Linked DNA regions of Homo sapiens: regions 2 and 3 are each linked to region 1. The links come from fine-mapping of genetic effects on gene expression. A gene starts in region 1. Each other region holds a variant in brackets. All regions are shown on one strand. Distances are from middle to middle. Region 1 holds the start of STIM1 (stromal interaction molecule 1). Region 2 overlaps STIM1 (stromal interaction molecule 1). Region 3 overlaps STIM1 (stromal interaction molecule 1).

Region 1 (5,000 bases):
CTACATTCAAAATTTCATCCCTTTAGCTTATGTCTAAAATATAGAACACCCACTCTCCAAAAAATATTCATCTTATGTCAGGCACTCATATTTTGGAGTGAAAAAAGACATATTATCAGTTATAAATAGGAATGTCACAGGGACAGGAAGAGATGATAATTAGGTCTACTTCACAGTTCAATCTACATTTGCCCACTAGTCTTTCCCTTCATAGCCCAATAAGAACCAAGCTTTCAGCCAGGTCTCAAAGGTCAAGGAGACTCTCTATGGAGAGACAGGATTAATAGGCAAAAAGGATCTATCTAGAAAGCAACAGCCAGGTATCCTACTTACACATGGGCAACCCTGGCCTCATTTGGAAACCAGACCTCTTGGAACATCTGGAACTTAAAAGGGTATTGCCCAATAAAGGGTCTACCACCAAAGCCAGCTTCTGGATCCATCCATGAAACTCCCCAGCCACCATGACCTATATTTCCTTTTCTGACTTGTATCAGCAGGTGCCCACTGAGCCATTCCCTCATTTGAACTTGCTTATGCTCAGAAACAACTCATCTATAAACTCTCCCCACACTGCAGGTCACAGCTTTGGGCAGATCACAGCCAAAGGGTGAGAGAAATGGGAAAAGAGAACTGATCTCGTAAGCCTTATGTAAAATGACTGGATTTTAATAGAGTTCCTTGATGGGTACAGTGGCTCACACCTGTAATCCCAGCACTTTGGGAGGGATCCCTGCACAACACAGAGAGACAGTGTCTGTTCAAAAAATTAAAAATAGAAAGAAAAAAAAAGTTAGCCAGGCCCAGTGGCTCTTGTGTTTAGTCCCAGCTACCGGGAGGCTGAGGCAGGAGGATCACTTGAACCCAGGAGTTTGAGGCTGTAGTGAGCTGTGATCACACTACTGCATTCCAGCTTGGACGACAGATCAAGACCCTGTCTCAAAAAAACAAAACAAAACATAAAAGTGTTCCTTTCTACTGCAAAAGTATACCAGGGCTCCTGCTGCCTGATAAGCCTTCACAACTGCATAGGAAAAACCATGACAGATCAAAAGTAGCATGGTTTCCCTAGCAAGCAGACTCAGGGAAAAAAAAAAAAAAACAAAAAAAAAAACCTGTAGCATGGAATTCCCACCCTCATCAGTCAGAAGAAACAGAATAAGTCAACAAGTGGTCCCAGGAATTATATCATGTCTATGTCAAGAAAAGGCCATTTAACACCCTAGTTGTAAATAGGATTCCATCTAAGAAACCGCCTGGATATTTCAAATGCGCACAGCAAAGAGACAAGACTACCTAAGGGAAGGGTGGGACTAGGGTTCCCACGGTTGTTGGAATAGGCACACCTGAACACCAGGCTTTCAGGCAACAGAGGTGGCCCAGCCTTAACTTTCCCTTTCCAACATAAGTGGCCCCAACCTCCCCCATGCTGCTCAGTACTAAAACCGAATAGGAGCAATGAACTTATCATCTCACCAGGCCATTCTTCCAGACAAGTAGGCCTAAGATGGGGTCTTTCCTTGCTGATCTAAAAGGTCAAGTTGCCCCAAAGGCTTCTTCTTACTGCCAACAAAAAAAATCCTGAGTGCGGGGGATGAGGAAAGTTGTTCAGGAAAGATACAGGCATTTGCCATGACTACTGACCAGAAAGAACTTCTTGAACTACTTGGAACAGGCAGTGCCATGTGTGAATCCTCCATGAACCTCACATGTACAAACCTAGATTTCAACTTGCCCACTTCGGGCCACTCAGTCCTGAGCCAAAGCCTCCAGCCCAGTCCAGCCCGCAGCAAGGCCTTACCTGCTGCAGTGGACTCCTCAGAGTTGGCCCCCGAGCTGGTTCCTGTCGCCTTCTCACTGTGACTATGGCTGAGGCTCTGGCCCTGGTGCAGGAGGAGTCCCCAGAGGAGCCACAGGGCAAGACGGACGCATACATCCATGACTCTAGGTCTCAGTCAACATGCGTCTGATGTGGACACCTCGGGATCCCAGAGGCAAAGCCAGGAGCCCGGGAGTGCAGCCGACGGTCTCCAGGCAAGATGCCCTCGCGGCTCCGCAGCTGTCCAGCCACCCGCGAGCCTGCCCCCTCCAACAGCCAAAGGTCAAGTGCTCCAAGTTTGGGTGCGGGAGGAGGGCTGGCTCCTCAGGTCCAACAGTGGGTCCGCCGGGGCTGCGGCGGCCTGAGCTCGTGCCGCTTCCGGAGACTTCGGGCAGGGTGGCTGCGGGGCTGCTGTCAGCTCCGCAGATTACTACACCCCTGCGGAAGGGGGCGGCCGGAGTCTCCGCGGGCACAGAAGTGGAGGAGGAAGAGAAGAGAAGAGAAGAGAGGCGAGAAGGGGGCACCTGACCTCGCCCTGCCGAAGAGCGGCGAGCAGCAGAAGCTGGGGAGGGCGTGCGACCCGCAGGGTCCTGAGGGCGCGGGCGTCTCCGGGATCCTGGGCCTCCTAGGCCGAGGTCAGCGCCCCCGCCCAGTCCCGTGCCCAGGCGGCTGGCGGTGCCCAGGTCCAGCAGGCGGACGCACACCGGCCAGGCCCAGGACAGCGGCTTCCAGGCGGGCGGGCGGCGCGGGGCGGGCCCGGGGCGGGCGGGGGCGTGCGTCTCCGCGCCCGCCCCGCGCCGCCCGGTCCCCAGCGAAGCCCGGGCCAGCCCCAGCGCCCAGCTGGATCCCGGAATAACCGGTGAAGACGGCTCCCCGGAATCCCCGCCCCTAGCGGGCTCTCCCGGACCCCCGGCCCGCGCTAGTCTTTGCCAGGATCCCGCGCAAAGGATCAAGTCCCAGCTTCCCTTTCCCCACCGAGAGTCTCCAGCGCCAACCGCGGGCCGTCGGGCGGGTCCCTGACCCGCAGTTACTCAGGTAACTCAGGCCTGCGGCGGCGGCGACAGCAGCTGCCCTGCCCCGATCTCCGGGCCTTGGTGCTGCTCCACTCGCCTCAGTTCTAGAGCTGTCTAAACAGAGGCCCAGGACACGACGTTAGCCTCCCAGGAGCTGCCTGAGGCGACAACAGCCTGACCCGGCTCGGCCCGGGGGCGAGCTCCCAGCCCCCAACTCCCGGCCAGTTCCCAGGCTCCGCCCTCGCGCCTCGCCTGACAACCAATCGGCTTCCGCCTCTCTGCGGCTTGGGAACCCGCGCGCTTCGTCGCCCATGCGCAGCGGCCCCTGGTGGGAAAATCAGCAAACTGCAGACAGGACTCGGCGCTCCTGGGAGGGCCTGCTCTTTTGCAGAGGGTTGCCGAGTGAAGCTAAGACCCGCCCCGGGGGAGGCCCACGAGGGCCACTGGGGCCTGCGAGTGTTTTCTGAGGAAATGATGATGCCAGAAAGCAAAATGAAATGTCCAAACCACTCTAGCTAAAATTCCCCTACACATTCCTTGAGTCTGGGCTAAAGGGTGCCATCTGCTTTCCCGACCCCGCCTCCCTTCCCCTCCAAGCTAAGTGGGATGCCCTCCCTTAGCTCTCACAGCCCTTTTTCCTACCTGCCCTCAAGCTCTCAGCCCTTTAAGGTTTTTCGGTGGGGCCTGTAAATGCTTCCTCCCTGCATCTCATTCTCCCAGCTACCTCTCTGGTGGAGGAGGTGTCAGCGACTTGAGAATGAGTGCGCCAAAGAAGACAGAGCCACGCCTGAGCCTCCTTCAACAAAGCCTGCACTTCCTGTTCTCTTCTCAAGCGTGCTGTCAGCAGATCTTGACTGAAACCTCTGTGCCCTACCCTGTCCTTGGCACCAGACGCAGGGGAAAGGATCAGGCCCAGTCCCTCCTCTGACTGACAGTGCTAAACCAGCTACCTGTTCTGAGCAAGGCCCCTGAAGACTGGGAACACGAATTTGCCCAACAGCTGCCTGGCTTAAGGGTTAGGCCGTTGATATAAAAATACATGGCTAATGTAACCTACTACCACTCTCCCGGCTCTGTTAAGCTCCTGTCACACTAGCCTTCGTTAAGTTCCTAACCACGTCAAACTCAGCCACCTCACAGCCTTTGTATCTGCTGTTGCTTCTGCATGAAACACTCTCGCCTGCTCCCAGTTCCTCATGTAGCTGGTCTCTTACTCTTCCAGATACAGCTCAATGTGTCTCCTTAGAAACTTTTACTCTGCCCACCCCTTCAAAATCAGTCTGTGGCCAAAATTGGACCATTACATCTGTCTGCCCCTCCCCCAACAGATAGTGATTGCCACTTTTCAGGTCAGAGACTGTGCCTTATTCATCTCTGTGACACTAGGACCCAGCCATAGACCCTGCACATAGTAAGTTCTCTGTAAAAGCTGGATTACATGAGTTAATTCACTTGAACACTCAGATACTAAAAACTAATACCGGAATATTGGAAAATTGACCAGAACAGTTGAAACCCTACCTAGGTTCTCCTAGACCTATTCTCTGAGCCAGGGGTCTTAAATTCAAATGGCAAAATGGGCAGGTAGGTAATTCAATTAAGAAAAGTAGGTAGGAGTAATACGGAGTGGTGGGGACTGTGGAGAGCAGGCAGAAAGATGGGCCTAGTATTGCTGGAGTGTCATTAAGAGAAGATGGGGCTGGGTGCAGTGACTCATATCTCTAATCCCAGCACTCTGGGAGGCCAAAGTGGGAGGATTACTTGAGCCCATGAGTTCAAGACCAGCCTGGGAAACACAGTGGGACCCCCATCTCTACAAAAAAAATTTTTTTAATTAGCCATGAGTGGTATCTGGCTTCTGTGGTCCCAGCTACTCAGCAGGCTGAGGGGGGATGATCGCTTAAATCCAGGAGCTCAAGGCTGCAGTGAGCCATGATCACACCATTGCACTCCAGCCTGGGCAACAGAGCAAGACCCTGTCTCAATTAAAAAAAAAAAAAAAGAGAGAGAGAGAAGATGGAAATCTGGACTTTCATATGACATATCCTTTTTAAAAAAATATTAGCAATTCGTTTAAAAGGATAAAACCTTATATAGGCCACAGAAAACATGTCTGCAGCCCAGATTAATCACTCAGACTGACAGTTGATCATTTCTACCTAAGCCAG
Region 2 (5,000 bases), 45 kb before region 1:
CCTTTGCCTCTATCCACAACACCAATTGCAATCTGCCCAGCTCCTCCTTCTGGCAATGCTACCTTCAGCTGGCCAGAAATTAACGCCTTCAGCAGTCTCACAGGTGGTGTCATGCCTAAGAGCAGTACAGGATACCACCTTCTCCTGAGCATTCTATTCCCTATGCCAAGGGTCCCCAACCCTCAGGCTGCAGACTGTACCAGTCCGTGCCTTGTTAGGAACCAGGCCACACAGCAGGAGGTGAGCGGCAGGCAAGCGAGCATTACTGCCTGAGCTCCGCCTCCTGTCATATCAGTGGCAGCATTAGGTTCTCACAGGAGTGCAAAGCCTATTGTGAACTGCACATGCGAGGAATCTAGGTTGCGTGCTCCTTATGAGAATCTAATGCCTGATGATCTGAAGTGAAACAGTTTCATCCCAAAATCATCCCCACCCCGCACCCTGGTCTGTGGAAAAATTATCTTGCATGAAACCGATCCCTGGTGCCAAAAAGATTGGGGATCGCTGCTCTCTGCTCACTCCTATTTTCACTCAGGTCATTTTCCAATCTAAATGCCTCCCAAGCTTCTGCAGTATATAAACTTAAACAGAGTTTTAGGGATTAGTTAAGTCACACCATCCCAGGAAGCTACAGTAACTCATAAAAATATCTGCCTTCCCTTAACCTCTAAAGTCCCAATGTGTAACTTATACTTCCACACTCATATCTAATCATCTCTATTAGATTAAGTTCCATGAGGCAGTGTCTGGTTTTCCATCACTACATCTCCATTACCCAAGAACAATAAATGTTTAAGAAATGTTGGGGGCCAGCCACATTGGCTCATGCCTGTAATCCCAGCACTTTGGGGGACCAAGGCAGGAAGATTGCTTGAGCTCACGAGTTCGAGACCAGCCTGGGCAATATGGCAAAACCCCGTCTCTACAAAAAATACAAAAATTAGCTGGGCATCGTGGCACGTGCCTGTAGTTTCAGCTACTCAGGAGACTGGAGCCTGGGGCAGGAGGATCACCTGAGCCCAGGAAGTCAAGGGTGCAGTGAGCTGTGGCTGCACTGCTGGAGTGTACTCCAGCCTGGGCAACAGAGCGAGATGCTATCTCAAAAGAAAAAAATGAAGAAGGCTTAGGCAAACAATAAAAGCTCAGTTAGCTAAATCTCCTACCACTGAGTCTGAGACATAACCAGGGACTGGTGGATTAACCAAGATCTATACCTTTCTACAACAACAACATGGAGAAAACTATATCAGCAATCTCATAGAGCTATTGTGAACACAAAGATGTAATCTATGTTAAACACTTAGGAGATTTTCTGACACATAAGCTGTCATTAAGTATCTCATTTTCTCTTTGAAAAGGAGCCATGGAGGTACCTTGTCAACTAAAGGACAGCTGGCCATACTACTTCTCCAAGTCATACTAATAGAAAAGCAGGGGACCACACTGTGTTCATTTACCTAATGGTGTTCTGTGGAACACTGGTATCTAACAAAATGTCAATAGGTGGTTTTTGAGGATAAAAAAAGATTACATGTTCAGAAAAACATAGAAAACCCTGTATACCTTTCCTTATCATATTAAAGCCTCCTAGCTTTTCCTAACTTAATCTCAAAGGTCTTTTACTGAGTAATAATAATAATGCCATTTCACCTGATACTGACATTCTGAAGAACACTTATTTTATTTATTTTTTTGAGGCTGAGTCTCTCTCTGTCGCCCAGGCTGGAGTGCAGTGGTGTGACTGCAGCCTCCGCCTCCTGGGTTCAAGCAATTCTCCTGCCTCAACCTCCAGAGCAGATGGGACTACAAGCGCACACCACCATGCCCGGCTAATTTTTGTATTTTTAATAGAGACAGGGTTTCGCCATGTTGGCCAGGCTAGTCTTGAACTCCTGACCTCAAGTGATCCGACTGCCTCAGCCTCCCAAAGTGCTGGGATTACAGGTGTGAGCCACCGTGCCTAGCCACTACACTCATTATATCTTAAAACAATGCATTGGGCCAGCCACAGTGGCTCATGCCTGTAATCCCAACACTTTGGGAAGCCAAGGTGGGAAGACTGCTTGAGTCCAGGAGTTCAAGACCAGCTTAGGCAACAGAGTGAGAACCCATCTCTACAAAAAATATATTAGCCAGGCATGGCGGGGTGTGCCTGTAGTCCCAGATACTTGGGAGGCTGAGGTGGGAGGATCATTTGTGCCCAGAAGGCTGCAGTGAGCTGTGATCGCAAACCTGCACTCTAGCCTGGGCAATAGAGGGAAAGACTCTGTCTCAAAAAACAAACAAACAGGTCGGGAGCCAAGATGGCCGAATAGGAACAGCTCTGGCCTACAGCTCCCAGCATGAGCGCTGCAGAAGATGGTGATTTCTGCATTTCCATGTGAGGTACCGGGTTCATCTCACTGGGGAGTGCCAGACAGTGGGTGCAGGACAGTGGGTGC[G/A]GCGCACCGTGCACGAGCCGAAGCAGGGCGAGGCATTGCCTCACTCGGGAAGTGCAAGGGGTCAGGGAGTTCCCTTTCCTAGTCAAAGAAAGGGACGACAGACGGCACCTGGAAAATCGGGTCACTCCCACCCCAATACTGCGCTTTTCCCACGGGCTTAAAAAACAGCGCACCAGGAGATTGTATCCCGCACCTGGCTCGGAGGGTCATACGCCCAGGGAGTCTTGCTGATTGCTAGCACAGCAGTCTGAGATCAAACTGCAAGGCAGCAGTGAGGCTGGGGGAGGGTCGTCTGCCATTGCCCAGGCTTGCTTAGGCAGAGGTACAAGGAGGAACTGGTACCATTCCTTCTGAAACTATTCCAATCAATAGAAAAAGAGGGAATCCTCCCTAACTCAATTTATGAGGCCAGCATCATCCTGATACCAAAGCTGGGCAGAGACACAACCAAAAAAGAGAATTTTAGACCAATATCCTTGATGAACATTGATGCAAAAATCCTCAATAAAATACTGGCAAACCGAATCCAGTAGCACATCAAAAAGCTTATCCACCATGATCAAGTGGGCTTCATCCCTGGGATGCAAGGCTGGTTCAATATACACAAATCAATAAATGTAATCCAGCATATAAACAGAGCCAAAGACAAAAACCACATGATTATCTCAATAGATGCAGAAAAGGCCTTTGACAAAATTCAACAACGCTTCATGCTAAAAACTCTCAATAAATTAGGTATTGATGGGATGTATCTCAAAATAATAAGAGCTATCTATGACAAACCCACAGCCAATATCATACTGAATGGACAAAAACTGGAAGCATTCCCTTTGAAAACTGGCACAAGACAGGGATGCCCTCTCTCACCACTCCTATTCAACATAGTGTTGGAAGTTCTGGCCAGGGCAATTAGGCAGGAGAAGGAAATAAAGGGTATTCGATTAGGAAAAGAGGAAGTCAAATTGTCCCTGTTTGCAGATGACATGATTGTATATCTAGAAAACCCCATTGTCTCAGCCCAAAATCTCCTTAAGCTGATAAGCAACTTCAGCAAACTCTCAGGATACAAAATCAATGTACAAAAATCACAAGCATTCTTATACACCAATAACAGACAAACAGAGAGCCAAATCATGAGTGAACTCCCATTCACAATTGCTTCAAAGAGAGTAAAATACCTAGGAATCCAACTTACAAGGGATGTGAAGGACCTCTTCAAGGAGAACTACAAACCACTGCTCAGTGAAATAAAAGAGGATACAAACAAATGGAAGAACATTCCATGCTCATGGGTAGGAAGAATCAATATCGTGAAAATGGCCATGCTGCCCAAGGTAATTTATAGATTCAATGCCATCCCCATCAAACTACCAATGACTTTCTTCACAGAATTGGAAAAAACTACTTTAAAGTTCATGTGGAACCAAAAAAGAGCCCACATCGCCAAGTCAGTCCTAAGCCAAAAGAACAAAGCTGGAGGCATCACGCTACCTGACTTCAAACTATACTACAAAGCTACAGTAACCAAAACAGCATGGTACTGGTACCAAAACAGAGATATAGATCAATGGAACAGAACAGAGCCCTCAGAAATAACGCCGCATATCTACAACTATCTGATCTTTGACAAACCTGAGAAAAACAAGCAATGGGGAAAGGATTCCCTATTTAATAAATGGTGCTGGGAAAACTGGCTAGCCATATGTAGAAAGCTGAAACTGGATCCCTTCCTTACACCTTATACAAAAATTAATTCAACATGGATTAAAGACTTAAACGTTAGACCTAAAATCATAAAAACCCTAGAAGAAAACCTAGGCATTACCATTCAGGACATAGGCATGGGCAAGGACTTCATGTCTAAAACACCAAAAGCAATGGCAACAAAAGCCAAAATTGACAAATGGGATCTAATTAAACTAAAGAGCTTCTGCACAGCAAAAGAAACTACCATCAGAGTGAACAGGCAACTGACAAAATGGGAGAAAATTTTCACAACCTACTCATCTGACAAAGGGCTAATATCCAGAATCTACAATGAACTCAAACAAATTTACAAGAAAAAAACAAACAACCCCCATCAAAAAGTGGGCAAAGGACATGAACAGACACTTCTCAAAAGAAGACATTTATGCAGCCAAAAGACACATGAAAAAATGCTCACCATCACTGGCCATCAGAGAAATGCAAATCAAAACCACAATGAGATACCATCTCACACCAGTTAGAATGGCAATCATTAAAAAGTCAGGAAACAACAGGTGCTGGAGAGGATGTGGAGAAATAGGAACACTCTTACACTGTTGGTGGGACTATAAACTAGTTCAACCATTGTGGAAGTCAGTGTGGCGATTCCTCAAGGATCTAGAACTAGAAATACCATTTGACCCAGCCATCCCATTACTGGGTATAACCCAAAGGACTATAAATCATGCTGCTATAAAGACACATGCACACGTATGTTTATTGCGGCATTATTCACAACAGCAAAGACTTGGAACCAACCCAAATGTCCAACAATGGTAGACTGGACTAAGAAAATGTGGCACATATACACCA
Region 3 (5,000 bases), 33 kb before region 1:
ACAAGTTTAGAGCTCAAGCTGGTATTGTACATAAACAGTATTTCATGGAGCTTTAGACTTCTGGCCCAATACCTGGAGAGGTGAAAGTCCTAAGGATGGGGTCCTATCCCACTGCTCAAAGAATGCCTTCTAGAAGCAAAATCAGGAAAGCACTACCTCTAGTTGACCTAGCTGATAATGAGATAAGCCATACTAGAAAATACACTTAAATACAATATGCTTTTCTTTTTTTTTGCAATAGAGTCTTGCTCCATCACCCAGGCTGGAGTGCAGTGGCGTGATCTCGGCTCACTGCAACCTCCACCTCCCAGGTTCAAGCGATTCTCCTGCCTCAGCCTCCTGAGTAGCTGGGATTACAGGCGTGTGCCACCATGCCCGGCCACAATATCCTTTTGAGCTTAAAACTTCAGTCAAATCTTCCATACCAGGCTGAGAAAACTGGTTCAGTCCAAGGGACTGGCCAGGAGAAGCCATGAGTCTCTGTCAGTGCTACTGGGTATGTAGCTCTAACAGGGGTGATACAGAAAAGTTCTTAAGACTTCTGAGGTACCATAAATTACCTTCAGCAATCTCTGTGACAAACTTAAAGCCTCTTGGATATCCAGCTCTATATAAGGACCAAAAGAGGATGATCACAGAAATCACAGATTTGGAAAAACTAGATGAACCTCCAGAGATCACCACTTGGACTGGCCCCTGCTCTCAGATTGCAAAACACCTATCATTAGGCTTGTTTTACAGATAATGCCACTAAGGTCCAGAGAGGGTAAGCGTGATGGCCTAGGTCAGATATCTAAGAGGCAGTAAGAAAGAAAAAAAGAATATCTAGTCTCAAGGAGTAAGCAATCTTGATGAAAAAGTAACACTCATGAAACTGTCGAAACACATGGTCAGGGAATAAGGGAGATCCCAATGAGGAGCTACAGGTATGGAAAGAAGGACAAGAGTTGAAGTCTCAGAGTAAAAGTCCCTGCCCAATGTACCTCTCACAAAGTAAAAAGGCCCGTCTTTGCTTAATATTTACTACCCTGTAATGCCTATTTACCTGTCTCCCCACTCAATAGTAATTCTTCCAGTTTATGTACCTTATATTATCCTTATCTATATTTTCAGCACCAAGCCTAGAAAACTGCATCTCCTGCAACTTTGAAAAGACTCAGACTAGCCCCACTCACCCAACAATACTAAAAACAAGGTTACCCTGTTAGGCATCTACCAAACCTAGAGGCCAGACCCTCAAAAAAGCGCCTAGATACGGCTAATAGAAAGTGACTTTAACAAGTAATTTAACCTCTTATTTTGTCCATCTCAAAGATATCAATAACATTAACAATCTCAGAAGACCGTATTAAAAATTAAGTATCCACGGTGAAACTCCATCTCTACTAAAAAATAAAAATAAAAAAATTAGCCAGATGCGGTGGCGTGTGCCTGTAATCCCAGCTACTCTGGAGGCTGAGGTAAGAGAATCGCTTGGACCCAGGAGGTGAAGGTTGCAGTGAGCCAAAATCGTGCCATTGCTCTCCAGCCTGGGCGACAAAGCGAGACTCTATCTCAAAAAAAAAAAAAAAAATTAAATATCTGTGAAAGCACTTAACACAGTACTTGGCACATAGTAGGCATTCAATGACTGCTAGCTTCCTTCTCACACCCCCTGTGTCTGGGTTCCTTTAAAATATAGTTTATTCCTTGGATCAACATTTATTAAACAACAAATATTTATTTGTTGGGCCTCAGGGATAAGATAATGATCTTGCCTTAGGTATCTCTGATAAAACCTCAGCATCTAGTATGATGACTGCTGTTGCCACAGCTGCCTGGCACATAGTAAGCACTCACTAAACAGGGAACTCCCAAGAACACTCCTGGATACAGACCACTGATGCATCACCTCTTTGTACAGGCCACTCCATCTGCTTTGTTAGCCCTAGAGGTGTGCAAGCACAAAAGAGATCAAGTCTCTGGACAGCAGCAGATCTATACATTTACAGAGCTCCACCCCCATAGTAAAGCCTGGCAGTCAAGATGACAAGAAAAACACAAGAACAATTCAGATGAGTCCCTCAAAACTGCATTAAAGACTACACGGCGGCCGGGCATGGTGGCTAACACCTGTAATCCCAGCACTTTGGGAAGCCGACACGGGCGGATCACTTGAGGTCAGGAGTTCAAGACCAGCCTGGCCAACATGGTGAAACCCCGTCTCTACTAAAAATACAAAAAGTCAGCTGGGTATGGTGGTGCACACCTGTAATCCCAGGTGGTGTGCACCTGTAATCTCCAGGCTTAGGCAGGAAAATCCCTTGAATCTGGGAGGTGGAGGCTGCAGTGAGCAGAAAGCACACCACTGCACACTAGCCTGGGCAACAGAGGGAGACTCTGTCTCAAAAATTCAAAAAAAAAGA[C/G]TATATGGCAATGTTCCAAACTATACAGCCTCTCTACTTAAAACCTGGGTTATAATATTAAACTGACCACCCACCCTCACATTTCCTATACTGCCCCCTGAAAGAAAAGGGAAGTGCTTCTTCCTTTCAGTGCTGCTTGTTCAGAAAAGCTGATGTCCTGGAAAATGGCTGAGCACCTATCCTGGCAAATAGGATCTAGCAAAAGCTTGAACCCCATAAAAGCATCTCAATCATTCACCTTGCTGGCCTCCAAGGCTGAAAATAGCCCCAAATGAAAAACAAGCTATGTGAATACTTATCTAGTTTCATAGCAGAGACCTTAAGCTAGCTGAAGAGGACAAACCCCTCACTCCTTAACTCAAGCAGACCTAAAAGCCTCACCTGTTTCTGGCCCCATAGCAGCTGGCATAGCTCTGGCACCTCCCAGGCTTCATCTTTCAAAAACAGAAATGGAACAAGTGCAGAACAGGGAAGAGCCTTCTGCAGTCAGCCCAGCACTGCTTGAGGGGTGGTGGGGAGATAAAAAGATTCCTGGACACAGATGTCCTATTTTTTTTTTTTTTTTTTGAGACAGAGTCTCACTCTGTCACCCAGGCTGGAGTGCAGTGGTGCGATCTCCACTCATTGCAACCTCCGTGCCTCCCGGGTTGAAGCGATTCTCCTGCCTCAGCCTCTCAAGTAGCTGGGACTACAGGTGCATGCCACCACGTCCGGCTAATTTTTTGTATTTTTAGTAGAGGCAGGGTTTCACCATGTTAGCCAGGATGGTCTCAATCTCCTGACCTCGTGATCCGCCCGTCTCGGCCTCCCAAAGTGCTAGGATTACTGGTGTGAGCCATTGCGCCTGGCCACAGATGCCCTATTCTTTCATCAAATCTGAAAACGAAATGAAAGGCCCTAAAGCAGCCATACCCCAAAAGTAGCATTCTGTACCTCCGCTTCATCTTCTGGCAATAACCTTAACAGGTTTCTCTAACCAGGCCCTGTCTCAATGCCTTTTTAAAGGTAGGTTTACCTAATCCCAAGACAGAGTCAGTAGGTCGGCACTCTGATATATCAAATCCATCTCTGTCTATTACATACCTTGACCCATGCCATTACAGTCCATTGTTTCCAGGTTCACCTCTCACAATATATTAAGCACTTCTAGATGTATGGCCCAGGTTTCATAATGCCCATGTTTCCAGTTTTGCCCAGTGCAAGGCCAGGCTGAGAACAGATGCTTAAAGGTTTATTTGTTGCAGGGCAAAAGTGAGCAGGTACAGAAACAGGGAAGGAAGTATAAGGACAAGAATGTATCCTGCTTTACTCTCCCTAGAGGCCCTCACCCAGTGCATGCTGCCCTCTGGACCTAGACTCAGGCTGGGTTTCCCAAGCCTCCTCTCTTATTACCAAACTCACAGCCCTCTACCTCCTCTGACTGTGTACAATACTAGTCCCTGGACCCTTTTCATCCTAGATGTTTGTTTCACCTCTGGATATATTTGGAAACTCCTTGAGTATATGGCCCGTCTCTCTTCTTTTTTTTTTTCTTTGAGACAGAGTCTTGCTCTGTCGCCAGGCTGGAGTGCAGTGGTGCGATCTCGGCTCACTGCAACCTCCGCCTCCTGAGTGAAAAGTGATTCTACTGCCTCAGCCTCCTGAGTAGCTAGGATTACAGGCACCCGCCACCACACCTGGCTAATTTTTTGTATTTTAGTAAAGACGGGGTTTCACCATGTTATCCAGGATGATCTCGATCTCCTGACCTCGTAATCCGCCCGCCTCGGCCTCCCAAAGTGCTGGAATTACAGGCATGAGCCACCGCACCCGGCCAAATAAGACCTTTTTTTTTTTTTTTTTTTTTTTTGACACAGAGTCTCGCTCTGTCACCCAGGCTGGAGTGAGGTGGCGTGATGTCTGCTCACTGCAAGCTCCACTTCCCAGGTTCACGCCATTCTCCTGCCTCAGCCTCCCGAGTAGCTGGGACTACAGGTGCCTGCCACCACACCCGGCTAATTTCTTGTATTTTTAGTAGAGACAGGGTTTCACCATGTTATCCAGGGTGGTCTCGATCTCCTGACCTCGTGATCTGCCTGCCTTGGCCTCCCAAAGTGCTGGGATGACAGGCGTGAGCCACCGCGCCCAGCCAAGTCTCTCTTCTTATAGCACAAAATACAATACCAGCCTCAAGGAATTATACCAGTAGCTATTTACAGAGTTAAAAAAAAAATCAACTTCCCTCAAGTTTTTAATTGCTCATGTGTGAAAAGGTGAAAAGAATGTCTCACCAGATTGCTCCTCCCTCTTAGGTTATCCGTCTTTCTCTATTTTATCATTGGGTTCCCAGTGAATTTTCTATAAAGAATTCAAGCCAAATGGTTTAGCACCTATATTTGGCCTATAATGTGTGATATTCAAGATATCATCGGAGATAACAATTCATTCTTTATATCCCACATCCCTCAGACTATGGGAAATGACTCACCCATGCCAATCCTTAATCAAAGGCAGGAAAAGTCCCCTTGAGCCAAAGCAGGACAATGCTATATCCTCAACACCTTCATTGATGGGCCCTTGCCTACGATCATGCTCAAACTCACATCGAAAACTGGA

What was found. PIP is the estimated chance that this variant, and not a neighbour inherited with it, causes the effect. A credible set is the group of variants that fine-mapping cannot tell apart.
Region 2: its variant is the best candidate, but not a certain one, in a credible set for the expression of STIM1 in monocytes (TOPMed, PIP 0.79).
Region 3: its variant is the best candidate, but not a certain one, in a credible set for the expression of STIM1 in whole blood (TOPMed, PIP 0.55).

Annotation. Positions count from the first base shown.
Region 1 is chr11:3,853,211-3,858,210 of GRCh38, reverse strand. It overlaps STIM1 (stromal interaction molecule 1), which reads right to left and starts at 2,547. Exons shown (of 13, transcript NM_001382567.1): 1 at 1,802-2,547. The coding sequence starts at 1,940. It overlaps STIM1-AS1 (STIM1 antisense RNA 1), which reads left to right and starts at 2,633. Exons shown (of 2, transcript NR_183662.1): 1 at 2,633-2,854; 2 at 3,553-3,888. MIR4687 (microRNA 4687) reads right to left here and starts at 2,149; the gene lies at 2,070-2,149. RefSeq lists enhancers at 1,632-1,681, 1,692-1,771, 1,922-2,131, 2,347-3,292, 3,502-3,571 and silencers at 2,352-2,511, 2,572-2,631, 3,112-3,161.
Region 2 is chr11:3,897,875-3,902,874 of GRCh38, reverse strand. The region is part of intron 1 of STIM1 (stromal interaction molecule 1); the gene reads right to left. Among named protein-coding and RNA genes, the nearest start is that of PPIAP40, 6.8 kb to the right of the region's middle. The variant G/A (reference allele first, on the strand shown) is at 2,442.
Region 3 is chr11:3,885,942-3,890,941 of GRCh38, reverse strand. The region is part of intron 1 of STIM1 (stromal interaction molecule 1); the gene reads right to left. Among named protein-coding and RNA genes, the nearest start is that of PPIAP40, 5.1 kb to the left of the region's middle. The variant C/G (reference allele first, on the strand shown) is at 2,406.